2 separate regions of the Homo sapiens genome follow, and region 1 is linked to region 2. The links come from fine-mapping of genetic effects on gene expression. A gene starts in region 2. The other region holds a variant in brackets. All regions are shown on one strand. Distances are from middle to middle.

Evidence for each region.
Region 1: its variant is fine-mapped to the expression of TRAK1 in whole blood (TOPMed, PIP above 0.99).

The regions. Positions count from the first base shown.
Region 1 is chr3:42,001,268-42,012,072 of GRCh38, reverse strand. LOC107986077 (a long non-coding RNA gene) reads left to right here. Exons shown (of 2, transcript XR_001740668.2): 2 at 1-55. Among named protein-coding and RNA genes, the nearest start is that of ULK4, 45 kb to the right of the region's middle. The variant C/T (reference allele first, on the strand shown) is at 4,714.
Region 2 is chr3:42,084,577-42,094,885 of GRCh38, reverse strand. TRAK1 (trafficking kinesin protein 1) reads right to left here and starts at 3,529. Exons shown (of 16, transcript NM_001042646.3): 1 at 3,326-3,529. The coding sequence starts at 3,416.

The DNA.
Region 1 (10,805 bases), 83 kb after region 2:
GAACATTTCTGTAAGTTTGAACTTATTTCCAAATAAAAAGATTTGGAAAAATCCATCAAGTTGGGGAATGAAGTAAGGTGGAAAGAAAGCAGGTATGATATAAAAGGGCAACACAAGGGATCCTTGTGAATTTGGAACTGTTAAACATCTTGAGTATGGTAGTACAGGTGATAAAATTATCTAGAACTTAATATACACACAAATGAGTACAAGTAAAACTGGGAAAATCTGAATAAGATAGGTAAATTGTATCAATGTCAATATCCTAGTTATGATATCATATTAAGGTTTTGCAAATGTTGTCATTGGGGGAAACTAGGCCAAATATATATATGTGTGTGTGTGTGTGTATTTTTTTTTTCCCAAGACGGAGTTTTGCTCTTGTTGCCCAGCCTGGAGTGCAATGGCACAATCTCAGTTCACTGCAACCTCCACCTCCCAGGTTCAGGGAATTCTCCTGCCTCAGCCTCCTGAGTAGCTGGGATTACAGGCGTGCACCACCATGCCTGGCTAATTTTTGCATTTTTAGTAGGGATGGGGTTTCACCATGTTGGTCAGGCTGGTCTCGAGCTCCTGACCTCAGGTGATCCACCTGCCCCAGCCTCCCAAAGTGCTGGGATTACAGGCATGAGCCACCGCACCTGGCCCAAATATATTATTTCTTAGAAATGAATGTGAATCTACCATTATCTCAATGCAATTTTTAATTACAAAAAAAATCATTTTTAATTACAAAAAAACTGTATGTAAATGGGCATGCCCATCAGGGAGCATGCCAGAGCAGATATGCTGGAGCTCTCATAGTGGATCTAGAATAGACATGGTGCTGTTACCAACAGTGAAGGCTTTCAAGAAAAAAAAAAAATTAGACTATTTGAAGTATAACTGACCGATCAGATTCCTTCCAGTTCTGTAATTTAACAATCCTAGAGCTGGGGGTTCTTTGAGATCATCTAGTCCAACCTACTCATTTTCTGGAAACTGTGGGCAGAAAAGTAGTGTGTGTCCACAGGAGCATCAAATTAGCGGTAGACCCGTTAACTACTGCTTGTCTGCCAAATATGTTCTACTTTCTTTACACCTTTACCAGCTGTCTGTCACTCCCTATATCTATGAGATTCAGTTAAGGCTGGTAGAAAATTTTGAAGTCATTCATTCTTTGGAGTCCCTGATTTGTTCTGTAGTGCCAGATGACAGGCATGTGGATTCTGCCCCTGAGGAGTAGGGACCAGTTTTCCTCTCCTACTCTCAGCTTGGAGGAAGCAGATGGCAGGCGGGGCCCCAGTGACAGCCCCAGTTCTGGGCCTGACTGAGCTGATGAACTACTTGGAGCAGCTGCTGACCTGCTGCTGCTGGAAGCCAGTGGAACAGGAACCTGGGAGGGAAGCAGAATGGATACAAGAAAGGAAAACAGTAATTGCCCTGGTAAGTCCTCCCTTCATCCAGCATGAGGCAGAAGTAGCTGCAACAGAGGCAACTGGCTTCCCTTGAGCCACAGATAGCCACTGTATTCTTTCCTTTTGTTGAATCAAATCGAAATTAATCTATGTTTACTTGCATTTGCCAGGCCCTCGTTAGTAACTGTGGGAAAATACAAAATAGAATATCTGATCCCTACCCATTAGGAACCCAGAATGCATCCAGGGACCCAAGGTGGAAATGTTGAAAGTGACCCAACAAAAGCAATTAAAAGGCTAGCTATATTAGCTGGGGTTCCCCCCAAAAGCAACATTGGAGAAGGACTCATGGGCAGATACTTTCTTCTGGAAAATGATCCCGTAGGATATGGGTAGAAAAAGAAATTGGGACCAGAAAGAATGAAACAGGAAAGAAAGAAAGCCTATTGAAGGATATAAAATTTCTGTAAACAACTGGAGCTTAGTCCCACTGAGGCCCCCTGAGGAACTGCGCAGAATGTAAGACAGAGGAGGAAATATTTAGCCACCAGTTCCTATCTCCCATTGGCCAACTTGATGCTGAGTTCAGGAGTGGTGGCTCACACCTGTAATCTCAGCATTTTGGGAGGCCAAGGTGGGTGGATCACTTGAGCCTCAGAGTTCAAGGCCAGCCTAAGCAACATAGCAAGACCCCATCTCTACAAAAGAAAAATTTAAAAATTGGCTATGGAAGTATGAAGGTATATGCCTGTAGTTCCAGTTACTCAAGAGGCTGAAGCAGGAGGATTGCATGAACCCCTGAACTCAAGACTGCAGTGAACTATAACTGAACGATGGCACTGCAGCCTGAGCAACAGAGCAAAACTCTTGTCTCAAAAAAAAAAAAAAAAGTAGATGCTGAGCAAAAAAAGCTAACTAAGATACAACATGGGACATATATAAAAGATGCCTGACACCAGCTTTATTCATTGCTGCAGTCCCAGCACCAACAACAGTGCCTGACTCATAGATGCCCCGTCAATAGATACAGAAAGAATGTCTGGGTGCGGTGGCTCATGCCTGTAATCCCAGCATTTTGGGAGGCCAAGGCAGGCAGATCACTTGAGGAGGATCACTTCAACTTCTGTTGAAGACCAGCCTGGCCAACAGGGTGAAACCCCGTTTCTACTAAAAATACAAAATTAGCTGGCATGGTGGTGCATGTCTGTAATCCCAGCTACTTGGGAGGCTGAGGCAGGAGAATCATTTGAACCCAGGAGGCAGAGGTTGCAGTGAGCAGAGATCATGCAGTTGCACTCCAGCCTGGGCGACAGAACGAGACTCTGTCTCAGAAAAAAAAGAAAAACAAAAAGAAAAAAAAAAAAGGGCGGGACGAGGTGGCTCACACCTGTAATCCTAGCACTGTGGGAGTCCGAGTCGGGCAGATCACCTAAGGTCCGGAGTTCCAGACCGACCTGGTTAACATGGTGAAACCCCGTCTCTACTAAAAATACAAAACAAATTAGCTGGGAGTGGTGGCACATGCCTGTAGTTCCAGCTACTCGGGAGGCCAAGGCAGGAAAAGCTCTTGAACCAGGGAGACGGAGGTTGCAATGAGTCAAGATCGCACCACTGCACTCCAGCCTGGGCGACAGAGCGAGACTCCATCTCAAAAAAAAAAAAAAGAATGAATGAAATACTGTAAAAAGTAGATCCATAAGTCATATATTGACAGTTTTGCGTGTGTGTCTATTTTTTTTGGTTTTTGTTTTTATTTTTTTTAGAGACGAGGTCTTGCTGTGTTGCTCAGGCTGGTCTCCAACTCCTGAGCTCAAGCAATTCTCCCACCTGAGATTCCCAAAGCGCTGGGATTACAGGAGTGCACCGCCATGCCCAGCCTGTGTCTGTTGGACTAGGCTAGGGTGATAGAGTAGTGGGTAAAACAGATGCATTCCTCAGCCTGGGCAAAATAGGGAGGCCCTGTCTCTACAAAAAAATCAAAAAACTAGTCAGGGATAGTGACATGTGCCTGTGGTCCCAGCTACTTTGGAGCCTGAGGTGGGAGGACTGCTTGATCCCAGGAGGTCTAGGCTGCAGTGAGCCATGATTGTGCCACTGCATTCCAGCCTGGGTGACAGAAGGATACCCAGTGTCAAAAAAGAAAAAAAAAACGGGTATATTCCTAGCCCTAATGGACCTTTCTGTCCAGGAGAGGAGTCAGATAATGTGATACACATATACATATTTAATTAGTTTGTGAAGGCCAGGCATGGTGGCTCACGCCTGTAATCCCAGCACTTTGGGAGGCCAAGGCAGGCAGATCACTTGAGGTCAGGAGTTTGAGATCAGCCTGACCAACATGGTGAAACCCCTGTCTCTACTAAAAATACAAAAATTAGCCAGGCGTGGTGGTGTGCGTCTGTAATCCCAGCTACTCGGGAGGCTGAGGTGAGAGGATCATTTGAACCCGGGAGGTAGAGATTGCATTGAGCCAAGATCGCACCACTGCACTTCAGCCTGGGTGGCAGAGTGAGACTCTGTCTCAAAAAAACAAACAAAAAAAAAATAGTTTGTGAAAAGTGCTATGAAGAAAAAGATGCAGGTGCTGTAAGTAGGATAAGAAGGGGGTTTATGATAAATCAGTTGGTTGAGGAAGATCTAAGGCGCTAACACTTAAGCTGAGACCCAAAGGAGGAACAGGAACCAACCATGCAAAGTGGAGGGGCAAGATCAGACCCAGAAGTGGGAAAGGCCCTCGATGGCTGGAGCCATGGTGGGGTTTCAGGGAAAAGCCAGGCAATGAGACTTCATGGTTCTGGTAAGGAGTAAAGAGTTTTAGGTAAGACTGACATGGTCACATTCACTTTCTAAAAACCTCCTTCTAGCCGCTGTGTGGAGGATGAACTCAAGTGGATAATCAAAAACCTCCACACTGCTGGCTGTGGAGGGTGTGAATACCAGACCACATCAAGACCAGCACAGAAGGGTCAGCTGCCACAGCATCTCCTCTACCACCACTACTGCCACCAGTAATTCTTCAGGAATATGCTAAAACCCACTGTAACATAAATGGGTTCAAAAATGGCAATTGGTAGACTATCGGGTTCCATAGCTGAAGGTTAATTAAAACCAATATTTCTAGGCCGGGTGCGGTGGCTCACGCCTGTAATCCCAGCACTTTGGGAGGCCGAGGCGGGCGGATCACGAGGTCAGGAGATCCAGACCATCCTGGCTAACACGGTGAAACCTGTCTCTACCAAAAATACAAAAAATTAGCCAGGCGTGGTGGCGGGCACCTGTAGTCCCAGCTACTCGGGAGGCTGAGGCAGGAGAATGG[C/T]GTGAACACGGGAGGCGGAGCTTGCAGTGAGCCAAGATCGTGCCACTGCACTCCAGCCTGGGCGACAGAGTGAGACTCCTTCTCAAAAACCAAACCAAACCAAACAAAACAAACAAAATCAATATTTCTAGCCTGGGCAACATAGGGTGACCTTGTCTCTACAATTTTTTTTAATTGGCTAGGTGTGGTGGTGCATGCCTGTGGTCCCAGCTACTCAGGAGGCTGAGGTGGGAGGATTGCTTGAGCATGGGAAGTAGAGGCTTCAGTGAGCCATGATTGCACCACTACATTCCAGCCTGGGCGACAGAGCAAGACCCTGTCTAAAAGAAAAAAAAAAAAACTCTCAGACAATCTTACAATTAGTGTGTGAGGGAAAGGGGAAAAATGTTTTCTATTATTACATGTGTAGGAAATGGAACAATTACAACAAACAAAGTATCAGCTTGAATTGAACTGAGAGCACCCCACATGATTGTGGGGTATTCATCTATAATCACCCCAAACACATACATACTCTAAGAAAAGAGCTTGAACCTGTCACCATTTCAGAAGGAGAGCAGAGTCCAATTATGTTTCATCCACATGCACATTATCCTGAAATCTCTTTTTTTTTTTTTTTTTTTTGAGACAGGGTCTTGCTCTATTGCCCAGGCTAGAGTGCAGTGGTACGATCTCAGTTCACTGCAACCTCCACCTCCCGGGTTCAAGCAATTCTCCTGCCTCAGCCTCCCGAGTAGCTTGGATTACAGGCACATGCCACCGTGCCCGGCTAATTTTTGTATTTTTAGTAGCGATGGGGGTCTCACCATGTTGGCCAGGCTGGTCTCGAACTCCTGGCCTCAAGTGATCCGCCCACCTCAGCCTCCCAAAGTGCTGGGATTACAGGCATGAGCCACAACATTCGGCTCCCCCTTTTTTTTTTCTTAGAGACGGTGTCTCGCTCACTGCGCTGCCACCCCCCTTTTTTTTTTCTTAGAGATGGTGTCTTGCTCTGGCACCCAGGCTGGAGTACAGTGGTGCTATGATCACTCACTGCAGCCTCAAACTCCTGGGCTCAAGCGATCTTACTGCCTCATCCTCCCAGGTAGCTGAGACTACAGGTGCATGCCACCAAGCCCAGTTAATTTTTTTTGAGGGGGGGTAGAGATTAGGGGGCACATGTCTCACTATGTTGCACAGGCTGGTTTTGAACTTCTGGCCTCGTGATCCTCTACCTTTGCCTCCCAAAGTGCTGGGATTATAGCTAGGAGCCACCGTGCCCAGCCATCATAGAATATTTTATGCCAGATTTTAATCTCACATTTATTGAGCACAGTTTGCACCAAGCACTGTGCTAAGTAGCACTGCACTAAGTGCTTTATTTTTTTAATTTTTATTTTATTTATTTATTTATTTTTGAGACAGAGTCTTATTCTATCACCCAGGCCAGAGTGCAGTGGCAAGATCTCAGCTTACTGCAACCTCGGCCTCCAGGGTTCAAGCAATCCTCTTGCCTCAGCCTCCTGAGTAGCTGGGACTACAGGCGTGTGTGCGCCACCATGCCCAGCTAATTTTTGTATTTTTAGTAGAAATGGAGTTTTGCCATGTTTGCCAGGCTGGTCTCGAGCTCTTGACCTCAGGTGATACTCTTGCCTTGGCCTCCAAAGTGCTAGGATTACAGGTGTGAGCCACTGCACCCAGCCATGTGCTAAGTGCTTTAGTAACATCAGTTCCTTCATTCTGACAGCAACTCTATGAGACAGCTATTATCTGCAGTTTATAGATAAGGAAACTGACCCTTGGATAAGTGAATTAACGTATACAGTCATAAACTATTGAAAAAGTCAGGCTGCTAGCCCCATATGACTGATTAAACACTTTGCTTTTGTCTCTGCGAAGTAAAAGAGAGTCAACCTCAGTCTTGGGTAATGGGAAGAATGAAGAGGAGAGGAATGGCACGGGAAAAGAATTCTAGGATTAAGACATGAGGGGCTGGGCATGGTGGCTCAAGCCTGTAATCCCACCACTTTGGGAGGCTGTGGCAGGTGGATTGCTTGAGCTCAGGAGTTCGAGACCAGCCTGGGCAACATGGAAAAACCCCGTCTCTACTAAAAAATACAAAAAAATTAGTTGGGCATGGTGACATGCACCTTTAGTCCCAGCTACTCAGGAAGCTGAGGTGGAAAGACAGCTTGAGCCTGGGAGGCAGAGGTTGCAGTGAGCCGAGATTGCGCCACTACACTCCAGGCTGGGTGACAGCGCCAGACCCTGTCTCAAAAAAAAAAAAAAAAAAGACATGAAGACTTGTGTTTATAAACCAGACTTATTGTGCATGGATTTTTTAGACATAAGAAAAACCATGAATTAATAACAATAACTTCTTTACAGCATCTGGTCTTTTGCCTTGAATCCATCTACTTTCCTCAGACAAACCAGATGCTATCATTCTTGTGCTGTAAACTCTTCAACAACGCCCTAGTGACCTAGGGGTATAGCCCAAACTTTCACTCAGGGAACAGTATTCTTCACTGGCCCCCATCCATCTCTTTAGCCATCTGCTCCACCACACTTTTTTTTTTTTTTTTTTTGAGACAGAGTCTTGCTCTGTCGCCCAAGCTGGAGTGCAGTGGCGCGATCTTGGCAAACTGCAAGCTCCACCTCCCAGGTTCACGCCATTCTCCTGCCTCAGCCTCCCTAGTAGCTGGGACTACAGGCTAATTTTTTGTATTTTTAGTGTAGATGGGGTTTCACCGTGTTAGCCAGGATGGTCTTGATCTCCTGACCTTGTGATCCACCCATCTCGGCCTCCCAAAGTGCTGGGATTACAGGCATGAGCCACCACACCTGGCTTTCTCTGTCTTTATTGGGTAGCCACCTCTGAGCTCTAACAATTGTTCCGATGTCTAAATGCAAACCCAATGTTGTCTTATCTCCTAGATTTTCAAAAGAAGTCAGAAATCTGGATTGCAAATAAAATCTACCTGTTTTAGGCCAGGTGCAGTGGCTCACACCTGTAATCCCAGCACTTTGGGAGGCCGAGGCAGGTGGATCACTTTAGGTCAGGAGTTCAAAACCAGCCTCATCAACATGGTGAAACCCCCTCTCTACTAAAAATACAAAAATTAGCTGGGTGTGGTGGCACATGCCTGTAGTCCCAGCTACTCGGGAGGCTGAGGCAGGAGAATCACTTGAACCCAGGAGATGGAGGTTGCAGTGAGCTGAGATTGCACCACTGCACTCCAGCCTGGGCAACAGAGTGAGACTCTGTCTCAGAAAAAAAAAAAAAAATTATGACCATGAATCTCAGGTGAGCTTTACTGCTGCTGAACAATTAATAACTCTCTAATCCAGTCATTCTCCCACTCTTCATGAAAACTACAACACATTTTTTCTTTTCATATCCAAGTTCTAGCAACTCCCTCCCCATCTTCACTGTCAGATGGTGACTTTGTTTCTTATCTCACTGAGGAAATGGAAGGAATCAAACGAACTTGTTTTTTGTTTGTTTGTTTGACGGAGTTTTGCTCTTGTTGCCCAGGCTGGAGTGCAATGGCGCGATCTCGGCTCACCGCAATCTCCACCTCCCAGGTTCAAGCGATTTTCCTGCCTCAGCCTCCCGAGTAGCTGGGATTACAAGCATGTGCCACCACGCCTGGATAATTTTTTTTGTATTTTTAGTAGAGACAAGGTTTCTCCATGTTAGTCACACTGGTCTCGAACTCCCGACCTCAGGTGATCCACCCTGCTTGGACTCCCAAAGTGCTGGGATTACAGGCGTGAGCCACCATGCCCAGCCCAAAAAAACTTCTACAAGCTCCCACCACTATGTCTACCCACCTAGTTGTGACTGGGACCAAATCATCTATTCACCCTACTGAAATTAGTGATGAATTATCCCTGCTCCCATCAAAAGCCGACTCCTCCCGTGTGAAGTAGACCCCATTCCTTCTCACCTACTGCATTAGGGTGAATGGTGGTCCCCCAAAATGTATTTCAGGTCCTAATATCCAGAACCTATGAATGTGACCTTATTTGGGAAAAGGGGATTTGCAGATGTCATTAAATTTTTTTTTTTGCGGGGGGAATGAAGTCTCACTCTGTCACCCAGGCTGGAATACAGTGGCACGATCTCGGCCCACTGCAACCTCTGCCTCCCAGGTTCAAGCGATTCTCCTGCCTCAGTCTCCAGAGTAGCTGGAATTACAGGCGCCTGCCACCAACATCTGGCTAATTTTTGTATTTTTAGTAGTAGAGATGGGGTTTCACCATGTTGGCCAGGCTGGTCTCAAACTGCTGACCTCAGGTGACCCGCCCACCTTAGCTTCCCAAAGTTCTGAGATTACGGGTGTGAGCCACCACACCTGTCATTAAGTTAATGATCTTGAGATGAGATCATCCTAGGTTACCTGGGGAGGCCCTAAATCCAATGACAGTGTCCTAGTAAGAGAAAAGCAGAAGGAGATTTAAAACAGACAGAAGAGTAGAACGCACACAGAGGAGAAGCCAATGTGAAGGCAGAAAAGAGAGAGATGCATCCACAAGCCAAGGAATGCCAGCAGCTGCCAGAAGCCAGAAGAGGCAAGGAAAAAATTTTCCCCTAGAGCCTACAGAGGGAGTACATCTCTGCTAACATCTTGAGTTCAGATTTCTGGCTTCTAGAATTCTGAGAGAGTAAGTTTTTGTTGTTTTAAGCCACCAAATTTGTGGCAATCTGTTATGGTGGCCCTAGAAAACTAATATACCTGCTTGGGTATATCATTACAATTTTCTCCCCTCCTTCCTCCATCATCAGTTTTTTTCCTCTCTACTGGGGCATTCTCACCAGCATACAAACATAGTTATTTCTTCTGTCTTTTTTTTTTTTTTTTTTTGAGACAGACTCTTACTCTGTCACGCAGGCTGGAATGTAGCGGCATGACACTGCAACCTCCGCCTCCTGGGTTCAAGTGATTCTCCTGCCTCAGCCTCCCAAGTAGTTGGTGCCTGCCACCACACCAGGCAAATTTTTGTATTTTTTGGTAGGGATGGGGTTTCACTGTGTTGGCCAGGCTGGTCTCGAACTTCTGGCCACAAGTGATCCACCAGCCTCAGCCTCCCAAAGTGCTGGGATTACAGACTTGAGCCACCATGCCTGCCCTATATTTCTTCCATCTTGAATAGAAGAAAAAAACTCTCTTGACTTTACTTCCACCTCTAGATGCCACCCTGTTTTTTGTCATCCTTCATAACAAAGCTATTTGAAAGAATTGCTTATCGTCACTGTCTCAATTCTGTCCATTTTTTCCTGAAACCCATTCCACTGAGACTACTCCACCCAGTCAAGGTCACCATTGACCTCCACATTGCTACATTTAGGGTCCATTATCAGTTCTCCTTTTACTTGACCTCTCAGCCACATTTGACACAACTTTTGTCATCTTTCTTCTTGGAACACTTTCTTTACTTGGATTCTAGGAAACTGCACTCTACACTCACTCCTTAGTGATCTCATCTAATCTCAAGGCTTTAAACACCATCTACACATAGATAACTCCAAGTTTATACTTCCAGTCCAGACTTTCCCTCTGAACTCCAGACTCATGTAAACAAACTTCCTACTTGACACTGGCATTTGGATGTCTAATAGGCATCTCTACCTTATTATGCCCAAAACTGAGCTGCTGGACTTCTAAAAATTCTACTATTCCACAGTTTCCTAGATTTCAATTGTCCAGGCAGAAACCTTATATTTATCTCTGACTTCTCCCTTTTTTTTCACCCCACATCCAATTTATCAGGAAAACCTGTTGGTTCTACCTTCAAAATATAATCCAGAACCTACTTCTTACTGCCTTCACTGCCTCCATCCTAGTCCAAACCACCATCATTTCTCCTGCATTCCTGCAAGAACCTCCTAAATTCTTACTTGTTCACCTGCCCTCTGCCCCTGCCCTACCTCAGTCCATTTTTCAATGCAGTAGCCAATGATCTTGTAAAATGTGAGTCACATCGTGGCTCTCCTCCGTTCAAAACCCTCCAATTGTTCCCCATTCCTCCCAGAATGTAAGCAAAAGTTTTTACAGGGCCAGGAGTGGTGGTGCACACCTGTAGTCCCAGCTACTTGGGAGGCTGAG
Region 2 (10,309 bases):
AGCCTTTGGACTGCAACTATACCATTGGGTCTCCCAGGCCTCCAGCTTGCCAACTGCACATCTTGGACTTGTCAGCCTCCACCATCAAGTAACACAATTCCTTGTAATACATTTCGATATATGTTTCTCCTATTGGCTCTGTTTCTCTAGAGAAACCTAGAACAGGATTTATAACATTATATTTCTTCCAGATCTAGTTATAAAGTTACACCTTTGCCGGGCACTGGGGCTCATACCTATAATTCCAACACTTTGGAAAGCTAAGGTGGTAGGATCACTTGAGGCCAGAAGTTCAAGACCAGCCTGGTCAACACAGCAAGATCCCACTGCTACCAAAAAAAAATAGCCAGGCACGGTGGCTCCAGCCCATAGTCGCAGCTACTTGGGAGGTGGACGTGGGAGAGTCACTTGAGCCCAGGAGTTCAAGATTGCAATACACCATGACTGCACTGCACCACTGCACTCCAGCCTATGTGACAGAGTGAGACTCTGACTCTAAAAGTAAAATAAAGTTTCAGCTCCTGATAGTTTCAGCCTGACTTGCTCAAGTTTTTCAGTGTTTATGAGAGATCAGGGCTCAGTGAAAACAGAGAAGTTTCTGACTCCAAAGTTCCCCCTGGGGCCATGAGTCCCAGACTCACACACCAACCCAGCTGCTCAGCCTGAGCCTGGCATTGGTGCACCCTGAATCCTCTCAGTCACTCCCAGTCAACGTTCCTACAACAGACCTTGGCTGAGCAGGAAGGTGCCGAGGCCCATACCTGGCCACTCTGCCAAAAACTGCCATTTTTTTTTCCTATTATAATTTATTATTTGCCAGCTTCCAAAAATAGTTTGGGGTGAACAAAGATTGATACATTATATACATGAAAAGCTTGTTTCGGCCAGGCACGGCGGCTCACGCCTGTAATCCTAGTACTCTGGGAGGCCTAGGCAGGCGGACTGCCTGAGCTCAGGAGTTTGGGATCAGCCTGGGCAACATGGCAAAACCCTGTCTCTACTAAAAATACAAAAAAATAGCTGGGCGTGGTGGCGCATGCCTGTAATCCCAGCTATTCAGGAGGTTGAGGGATGAGAACTGCTTGAACCTGGGAGGTGGAGGTTGTAGTGAGCCAAGATCATGCCACTGCACTCCAGCCTGGGTGATAGAAGTGAGACTCTGTAAAAAAAAAAAGGAAGGGGAGGGGAGGGGAGGGGAGGGGAGGGGAGGGGAGGGGAGGGAAGGGAAGGGAAGGGGAGAAAAAAGAGAAGAGAGAAGAGAGGGGAGAGAAAAGAGGACAGGAGAGAAAAAAATTTGTTTCAAGTGCAGAACTAAAACCAGTTAGGAGAAGATAAAAATATATCAAATACTTGAGAACTATGGCCCCAAAATCACATGGAAAAAAACTTACAAATGACATTTTAAATAAATTTCACAATTTATGTCAAAAACCTTGTGATAAATATTCTACCTACTCACCTAGTCATAAGGGAACTGAAGGGTAGGAAGATTAGCTGGTGGCCCCCAAATCATTTATAGCATATTTAAAAGGCAGAGGTGAATGTTTCTGTGGTTTTGCAAAGATCAAATGCTCTCTCTAGAAATTAGCATAACAGGGCCCCTTTCTGCATTCCATCTGCAAAAACAAATCAACTGTGAAATAAAGGAGATTCCACTAAGAGAAGGAGAAAAAAAAAAACTTCTAAATTACACATTTAGAAAATATGTGTTATTCCCTACATTGTAATTTACATTTTCTCACTCTGTTGTAAAAGGGATATATATTTCACTGTCCATTCTTTTCTGTTTCATTAATATAGCCAAATAAAAGACCCATTTAGATTATAAATTTTCAATAGAAAACACAAATAAAAATTATACTAGAGAGAAATTGACAAGGCCTTAAATTTAATTAATAAGATGTGTAAGAATTCCATAATGTTTTATTTGAGCATGTTTTCAGAGGATAAGACATCAAGTTTTATGGCTTAAATCAGTGATAGAAAAGGAAAAGATCCTGGGTCAGGCATGGTGGCTCACGCCTGTAATCCCAGCACTTTGGGAGGCCGAGGCAGGGGGATCACTTGAGCCCAGGAATTCAAAACCAGCCTGGGCAATACAGTGAGTCACGAAATAACATAACATAACATAACATAACATAACATAACATAACATAACATAACATAACATAACACAACACAACACAACACAACACAACACAACAAAATAAAAGGAACAAATTCTAAGCCATGGCCCTTTGATGAAGAGTCCTCCCAGGCAGGGCTACTCCTGTTAGCAGATTTTTCCTAGGCAATTCTCACTCGGTTTACAGCTTCTCCTTTACACCCTGGCCCACCTCTGTGCTCTGAGGGCAGGACCAGTCCTCTCTCTGACCCCAGGAATTAACATAAACCCCAGTAAAAACCTGGCCCTGGGTGCACGCTGCTTCAACACACAAAAATAAGTACGATTGCCTCAGTAAGATGCATGTTTGAAGTGTCTTTAGGCTTATTCAATAAGATTTACATGTTTTAAAGCCTAAAACTGACTGGAATGGAACAGGAGCTCACTTCTCTCAGGAATTAACTGTTTTCTGGCCCAGACAGCTCTCAGGAAGCAGCGTGTAGACAGGACAGAAACCAGATGGGTCATCAACCACTGGACTCTGACCAGCTTAGAGGAAGTGAGAGGTGTCAGCCCCACAGCAAGAGACACAAGCCACAGCAGATCTGATTAGCAAGCCCTCCATCACTGGGGTGTGGATCCGAGTCCCAGGCCCAAGCATTTAGTAAAGGACAAAAAAGAAAGGGAGGGTGGAAGAGAGGGAAACGGGAGAGAGGGAGGGAGACAGTCTAACTCTGTCCTTCACCTTCTGAAAAACTCCTTGCTGACCCAAGATACCAGGTTAGCATCTAAGAAATCAGGATAAAGACAAGACATAGGATTAGAGAAATCAGAGCTGGAGAGGCGGAGGAGGCCTTAGAAACCCTGTCCACCCACTGCAGAGAACTGTGAAGGGAAAGGGAGTGGCAGTGCAGGGGGTCTGGGCTCAACTCAGCCCTGTGCTCATGCCCTGCAAGTGTCACTTGCACCTACTGAGCCTGGGCAAGGGGACAAGGGGACCTGGGAACGGGAGATGGGGGGGTGGTGAGGGCAGTAGTTGTGTCTCTGAAGTCCCTTTGCTCTGCCTATCATTCAACATGGCAATTTCTCTACCACATGACCATGAACAACCTCCCAAGCAGCACGGAGCAAGAGAGAGACAGCTTCTCCTGTGGTCTTTTCTCCTTTCCGACCACACCACAAAGAAAACAGACAGCAGACAGACCTGGCAAACAAACTTACCACAGGCGTTTGTCCGAATGAGCTTGCCGTGGCAGAGTCCTGGCAGAGGCTGAGCCCTGACGGGCTGCCCGAATTGAAAAACCAATGCCATGTGCAGACATAAACTCCAAAGGCACTTCAGAGAACAGAGAGAGCCTCCATGAGAGCTCAGCCCCGGCAGTACCTCGCACAGCCACCCTCCCGTGCCTTCCTCAGCAGTTTTCTGAGTTTGCTTGTTAGGGCAAATCCTAAGATTGTGAGCTGTCCTGGAAGCACAATGGGTTATGTAACTCCAGGCAGCCTGGGAACCCTATCAGCTCATCTTGTTAAGCCACCCCAAACAGAAAATGACGCACCCAAAAATGTGATACCTCTAGGTTGGGGGAAGGGGAGTAGCAAGGAGAACGGGGCTTTGTGATGGGCATTCGGTTTTGCCTAAAAATTAAAGTGGAACAAAAAGTCTGCTGTTCATCTCAGGGCTTGCTGGGAACTGGGGGAGGAGTGAATTTATCAAGGGCTGAATGCCAAGCAGTGTCCTGAGACTGCACTTGGCAAAGCCCTGGGAGGCCACAGATGCATTCTTGGGGATAGTCTAGGTCTCTCGGAGAACTTTTTTCCATTTAATGTCTTCCTTTCAATGACTGCCTAATAAAACTTTAATCCGAGCATGTTCTCCATCACCTGACAGCCCATCCCTTAAACGCATAAGAGTGTCTGTGTTTACTCTCCTGTTTACCAAGCCAGTGCTAAACACAACAGCACCGAGCTGTTTCTCAGCTTTCCTCTGGTCCCAACAAAGAACCCCCAAGTCACCACATCCTATAGGGTTTGAAGTTTCAGCACTACATTCTGCCACTTCTTTGTTGTGTTTTTTGTTGTTGCTGTTTCGTTTTGTTTTTTTGAGAGAGTCTCACTCTGTCGCCAAGGCTAGAGTACAGTAGCACTGTGTCAGCTCACTGCAACCTCCATCTCCTAGGTTCAAGCAATTCTGCCTCAGCCTCCCAAGTAGCTGAGATTACAGGCGTCCGTCACCATGCCTGGCTAGTTTTTATATTTTTAGTAGAGACGGGGTTTCACCATGTTGGCCAGGCTGGTCTTGAACTCCTGACCTCAGGTGATCTGCCCGCCTCGGCCTCCCAAAGTGCTGGGATCATAGGCGTGAGCCACCACGCCCAGCTGTGAAGTTTCAGCGGTACATTCTGCCATTTCTTTACCCTCCACTGTCACATTCAAAGAAAGTGAAAGCACTTTAACAGGCTGGATGCTTCCTGGATTTCACTGGTACAGATGCCACTAGAATCCCAAGGATCAATTCATGTGTTTGGACAAATGTAGATGCGGTTGGGTCATCGCCTCCTCCACAAAGCCCTCGTGGTCTTCTCCTGTCCTTTCCCCTCCAAGGTTCAGCCTGGCACCCTCCTTGGTGCCCTACTGTGCTGTGCTTATCATTGTGCTAACCTCGGTGTACAGCCAATTTCTACTCACTCATCTGTCTCCCCAACTAGACTAAATTCTTAGGCAGCAAAGAACCCTTGCCCTGGGGTCCTACAGACCTGGATGCAACTCCTGCCACTCAGGAGTTTCACCAAGGTGCTGAACCTTTCGAGATTTAGACTCTTCACTTACACAAAGAGGATAATAGTACTCACTGCACAAATTGACACAATTGATACACCCAACAAATGTTCACTGAGCGCTGGCCACAGGCAGGCACTACGTTAGTCACTGGATTCAGGAGTGTGCAAAGTAGACACAGAGTTTGCCCTCCGCGACTTTAGTCTACTGCAAGTTTGGGAGACAAAACACAAATACAGTAGTTCAGCAGATGGTTAAGTTTGGGGGAAAAAATTAAACAGGAAAGGGAGATGGGGAAAGGTGAGGCAGATCACTCTGTATTGGGGGGGGGTCACAAAAAGCATCAAATAAAATGTCACTTGGAGAAGGAAGAGGGGGTCATAAGGATATCTGGAGTTAAGGCAATCCAAAGACCCTGAGGCTGGATGTGCCTGGTGAGTTCAAGGTTAAGTGAGGCGGCCAGTGTACCTGGAGCACGGAGGGCACAGAGGAGGCAGGTCAGCGGGGCAAAGAGGGATTCCTGTCATTCAGCCCCTTCCTTACAGGTCTCTATAGAAGGGGAGCTCACTGGAAGTTTGGAGGAGAGTTAAACCATCTGATTGTATTAAAAGCCAACTCTCATGGTTGAGCGGAGAAAGAATTTTAGGGAGGCAAGGGTAGCAGTAAGAGGCCCCACTGGAAGGCCAGTGCGGTCATCCAGGTGTGAGATGGGGGTGGCTGGGACACAGTAAATGCTGGGTAGATTCTGAACATACTCTGAAGATACAGCCAACAGAATTCTTGACAAACTGGGGTATGAATCGCAGAAAGGCAGAATCACAAATGCCTCCAAGGTTCTTGGCCTGAGCAACTAGAATAATGAAAGCACCATTTACAAGGATGGGGAAAACCCTAAGAAAAGCAGGTGCAGGTGGAAACCAGGAGCTCATTTTTGGTCATTTGAGTTTGACATGCCTGTTAGACATCTAAGTGGAAACTCATGTGGAGTCAGTCTGAGACATCTGGCCTTAAGGAGGAAGGGCCAGGCTGAGTACAGAAACCACCGAGTGGCCAGTACAGAAGGCGATTTTAAAACCTGTGTGCTGGGTGAGATCAAGTGCTGCACAGGTGCACACATAAGAGCAAAGAGGCGGAAAGGCTGGGCCCCGGGCCCTTCAACGTTCCCAGGCTTGGGAGAAGAAGAAACGCAGCCACTGAGGCAGAAGAACAGGGAGAGTGTGGGGACCCAGAAGCCAAGTAAAGACTGTACTTCCAGGACACAGGACTTGGCAACAGTGTGAACTACCACTGAAAAGTGAAGTAAGGTGAAGGCAGAGGACAGACCCCTGGACTGAACCAGGCTGTCAGTGTGGTGGGGCATGAGCCTGCCTGCAGTGGACTCCAGAGAGAACAAAAGAAAAACTAGAGTAAGCAAACAGAAGAGCAGAGACACTGGCCTGCGGGAAACACGGGACTGAGAAGGATTCTATTTCCGAAGAGGGAGATCATAGCATGTTTCTGCACTAATAAGAAAGACCCAAGTGCAAGGGGAAAAGAATGATGCAGTAGAGAAAAGGGAGATGTTGGAACTGTGTCCTTCAGGGGGCAGGCAAGTGGGAGAGGGACTCAGTCACAAGCGGAGGACAACACATGTGGGCCACTTAACAAAAAGGGAGAGGAGGTGTGTGGGGGCCTAGCACAGCAGCTAGGCACCAGGCTGGGACCCCCGGCTTTCTCTGTGCCTTTCTGTATCCAGGAAACCCCTGACACACAGGAGGTCCTCAAGGCTTAACTGGTAACACAGAACCAAGAGAAGCTACTGGAAGCCAACTTGCATATATTAAGCTGTCATCAGGCATTACTTCAAACAGACAAACAAAAGCAAACACTGCAGACAAAAATGAGAAATTAAGCAAACTTCTATATGAATGCAACTGGATTGAGCTATAATTTTGCCACTTGCTGCTGTTATGCACACCATCCTACACCATTTCCATTGAGAGCCCTCTCTTGTGCTAGCTTCAAGCACTTGTCTCAATGCTTCCTTGGGGAAAATAAAAAAGCAATAGCTCTACTACTAAGTGCCCGCACAGATGTTAGGTGATTACCACCTGGGACACTGAGAGTTATGACTGACACAGGTATCTGTAAAAATCCATGTCTGTGCAAATCCTGATGGTGTACAAAGGGCACTCCATGTAGTTTTCTGTTTTTGCATCCCACAATGACAGTGCATGTTATTCCCACTACACCTGTCTTATATCTGAAGAAGCTGAGTGCAAAGAGAGAAGGAAGGGTTCAATACACTGAGTGCCTGTGATGGGCCATGCTTGCTGCTCAGGTTTGGATGTTACCATCTTTAACCTTCATGACAATTTAGTGAAATGCTGTCTACCTCTCAGTCAGGATAGTAGGTCAACAACTGACACAAGTTACAAAATGGTTCACTGGCAGAACAGGTTCTGGATTGGAGGTCTCACAATCCGAAAGCTCAGAGTCTTTTGCACTTTGGTGGTTCCTCTCCACATACCTCCCCAAGACCCTCCCATGTGGCTGCATTCCTTCCCTAGTCCTCAGTGACTGAAACCTCCCTCCCTTCCTCCCTGGCAGGGAAAGGGCCCCCATACCAGTAATGGTGCAGGCATCCCGGTACCCTCTGTAGCTGGGAGCATCTTCCACAGCCTCGCTTATGTAGTGTTCCTCAGGGATGCCCAGGCTGCAGGCTAGGACTGCATGGTTGCATGCCTCCGAAGGGGGCACGGAGTTGGCCAAAGTGTCGTCGTGCAGAGCTGTGGCGTCCAGCTTGGCAGGTTTCACGGGGAGGTGCCCACTGCCATCGGGGGCCCCACTGCCAGAGTCTGGGGCAGTTGGGCAGATGGCCCCCGGTAGTTCTGGTGCACCAGCAGGGGCTCCTTATAGGGAATCTATGGGACAATTGAAAGAGAGGGGCACAGTTAGAGTCTATCGATAAACCTGGACAATCTTTAGAAAATGAGGGCCCCGGGATGACGTGCGTTCAGACTGCGAATTCTGAAACGCGTTTCTCTCAAGTCAAGGCATCTCCAATCACATTGCTTAGTTTCAATAAAATAACTGCAGCAAAGTTCCATTCAACTAATCAATATTGACCAAAATGTGGAGCACATGGCTTCATTTGCTTACTGAAACCTGCCTTGAAGCAGCTCTAAGCAAAGAAACACACTGGAGCACAGCTAAAACCTGTATTCCTACAGGATTTATACACACAAAGAGAGGTAACATTTTTATTTGTATATGGAATTACATAAGATATGTTTCTCTTAAACTCTTTCAACCACAATAACTTCTCAACTCTCTAAGAACTTTAAGGTATGCCCCTACCTTAAGCTACAGTGAGAAATTAGGGGACTCCTTTAAGAACCTGATGAAAATGGCTGGACACGGTGACTCACTCCTGTAATCCCAGCACCTTGAGAGGCCGAGGTGGGCGGCTCATTTGAGGTCAGGAGTTCAAGACCAGCCTGGCCAATATGGTGAAACCCCATCTCCACTAAAAATACACAAACAAAAAAAAAATTAGTCAGGTATGGTAGCGGGCACCTGTAATCCCAGTTACTCAGGAGGTTGAGGCAGGAGAATTGCTTGAACCGGGGAGGCAGAGGTTGCAGTGAGCTGAGATCATGCCACTGGGCTCCAGTCTGGGCAACAGAGTGAGACTCATCTCAAAAAAAAAAAAAGAAAGAAAAAGAAGAATCTGATGAAAACTACAGACTCACCCTCATTTAAAATCTGACTAGGATGAAAGATAACTTCTGAGAAAAGATGGCATGTGACATAGGCTGCTGAACACTCCGCTCTGCGCCGGCAACAGCACACCTACATGCAGGCGATTTCCCACACATTTCAGGAGTGCCGCTGCCTCAACTCCCAGCGCACCTGCACACACATCACATGTGTACACACAAAACGTCAAACAGGAGCTTAATGAAAAAGGAAACCTACAAAACATTCCTCAGCACAAGAGATCTCAAAGTGTGGTCTGAGAATCCCTGGAGTTTCCTGAGACTAGTTCAGAGGGTCTACAAAGTCAGACACTCTCGCTCTCACTCTTTCATGGATGTACAGTGGAATTTTCCAGAGACTACATTATGTGTGATGATGCCACTGCTCTGAAAGCTAATTAATGGAACTTTCATATCCGTGTGGTTTTACATCTTATGTTTCAATTTCTATTACAATACATATGAATCAACAGAATCATTTAAATAAAAATGCTTTAGGAGGCTCAATAACTTTGAGGCGTCCTGAGACCACACCCACAAAAAAAGTGTGAGAACCACTGCTCTAATAAATGATGCATTATCGTTTGTTTAAAAAACACATACACACAAAAAGAGAAAGTTAATAGACATTTCCCCCAACATGGTAGAGTCAGTTCTGAAAGAAAACTACAGCCCTGAATCTGTGACCTTTTTCCCAACAGGTTTATTTACCAAAATACACCAGGAATTCCTATTACAGGCGGAGTATCCCTTAGCTGAAATGCTTGGGAACAGAAGAGTTTCAAATTTTGGATTTTTGACTGGGCACAGTGGCTCACATCTGTAATCCCAGCACTTTGGGAGGCCAAGGCGGGCAGATCACTTGAGGTCAGGAGTTTGAGGCCAGCCTGGACAACATGGTGAAACCCCATCTCTGCTAAAAAATATAAAAAGTAGCTGGGCATCGTGGCGCATGCCTGTAAACCCAGCCACTCAGGAGGCTGAGGCAGGAGAATCACTTGAAACTGGGAGGCGGGGCTTGCAGTGAGCCAAGATCATGCCACTGCACTCCAGCCTGGGCAACAGAGCAAGACTCTGCCTCCAAAAGAAAAAAAAATGATTTTTTTTCAGATTTGGGGATATTTGCCTTATACTTACCAAATGAATGTCCAAAATCCAAAAATCTGAAATCTGAAATGCTCCAATGAGCATTTCCTTTGAGTGTCATGTAAACACTCGAAAAGTTTCAAATTTCAGATTTTCACATTAGACATACTCAGCCTGTATAAATGAACTCAGCCCAGGCAATAAACTTCCTGCCCTCATTAACATGAAAAAATAAATATGAAAATGGGAAGGATGGGTAGGAGAGTCTGTATATCCCTGGTGAGAAAAGAAAGTTAACAAGAGAAGCTTGGAACCTTTAGGAATTTCTGCAAAACAACATGTAGATAAAACTGGATTGGCATAAGGAAAAAAAAAAAAAAGAAAACGGGATTGTCACGCCTAGTCAGTGACTCAAATACAGATGAATGGATAAGCTGCCTCACTAGAAAAGCCTATAATCCTCAAGAAGAACCCAGAACATTCTAGACAGCAGAGGGCTGAGCAGGATGAACTAGAAGACCCCCAAGAGTCACCAATGATGGTCAAGGGTCCAGGATGGGAATTCACCGGCTGAAGCCAAGGGAAGCTGGGCACTGCCACAACC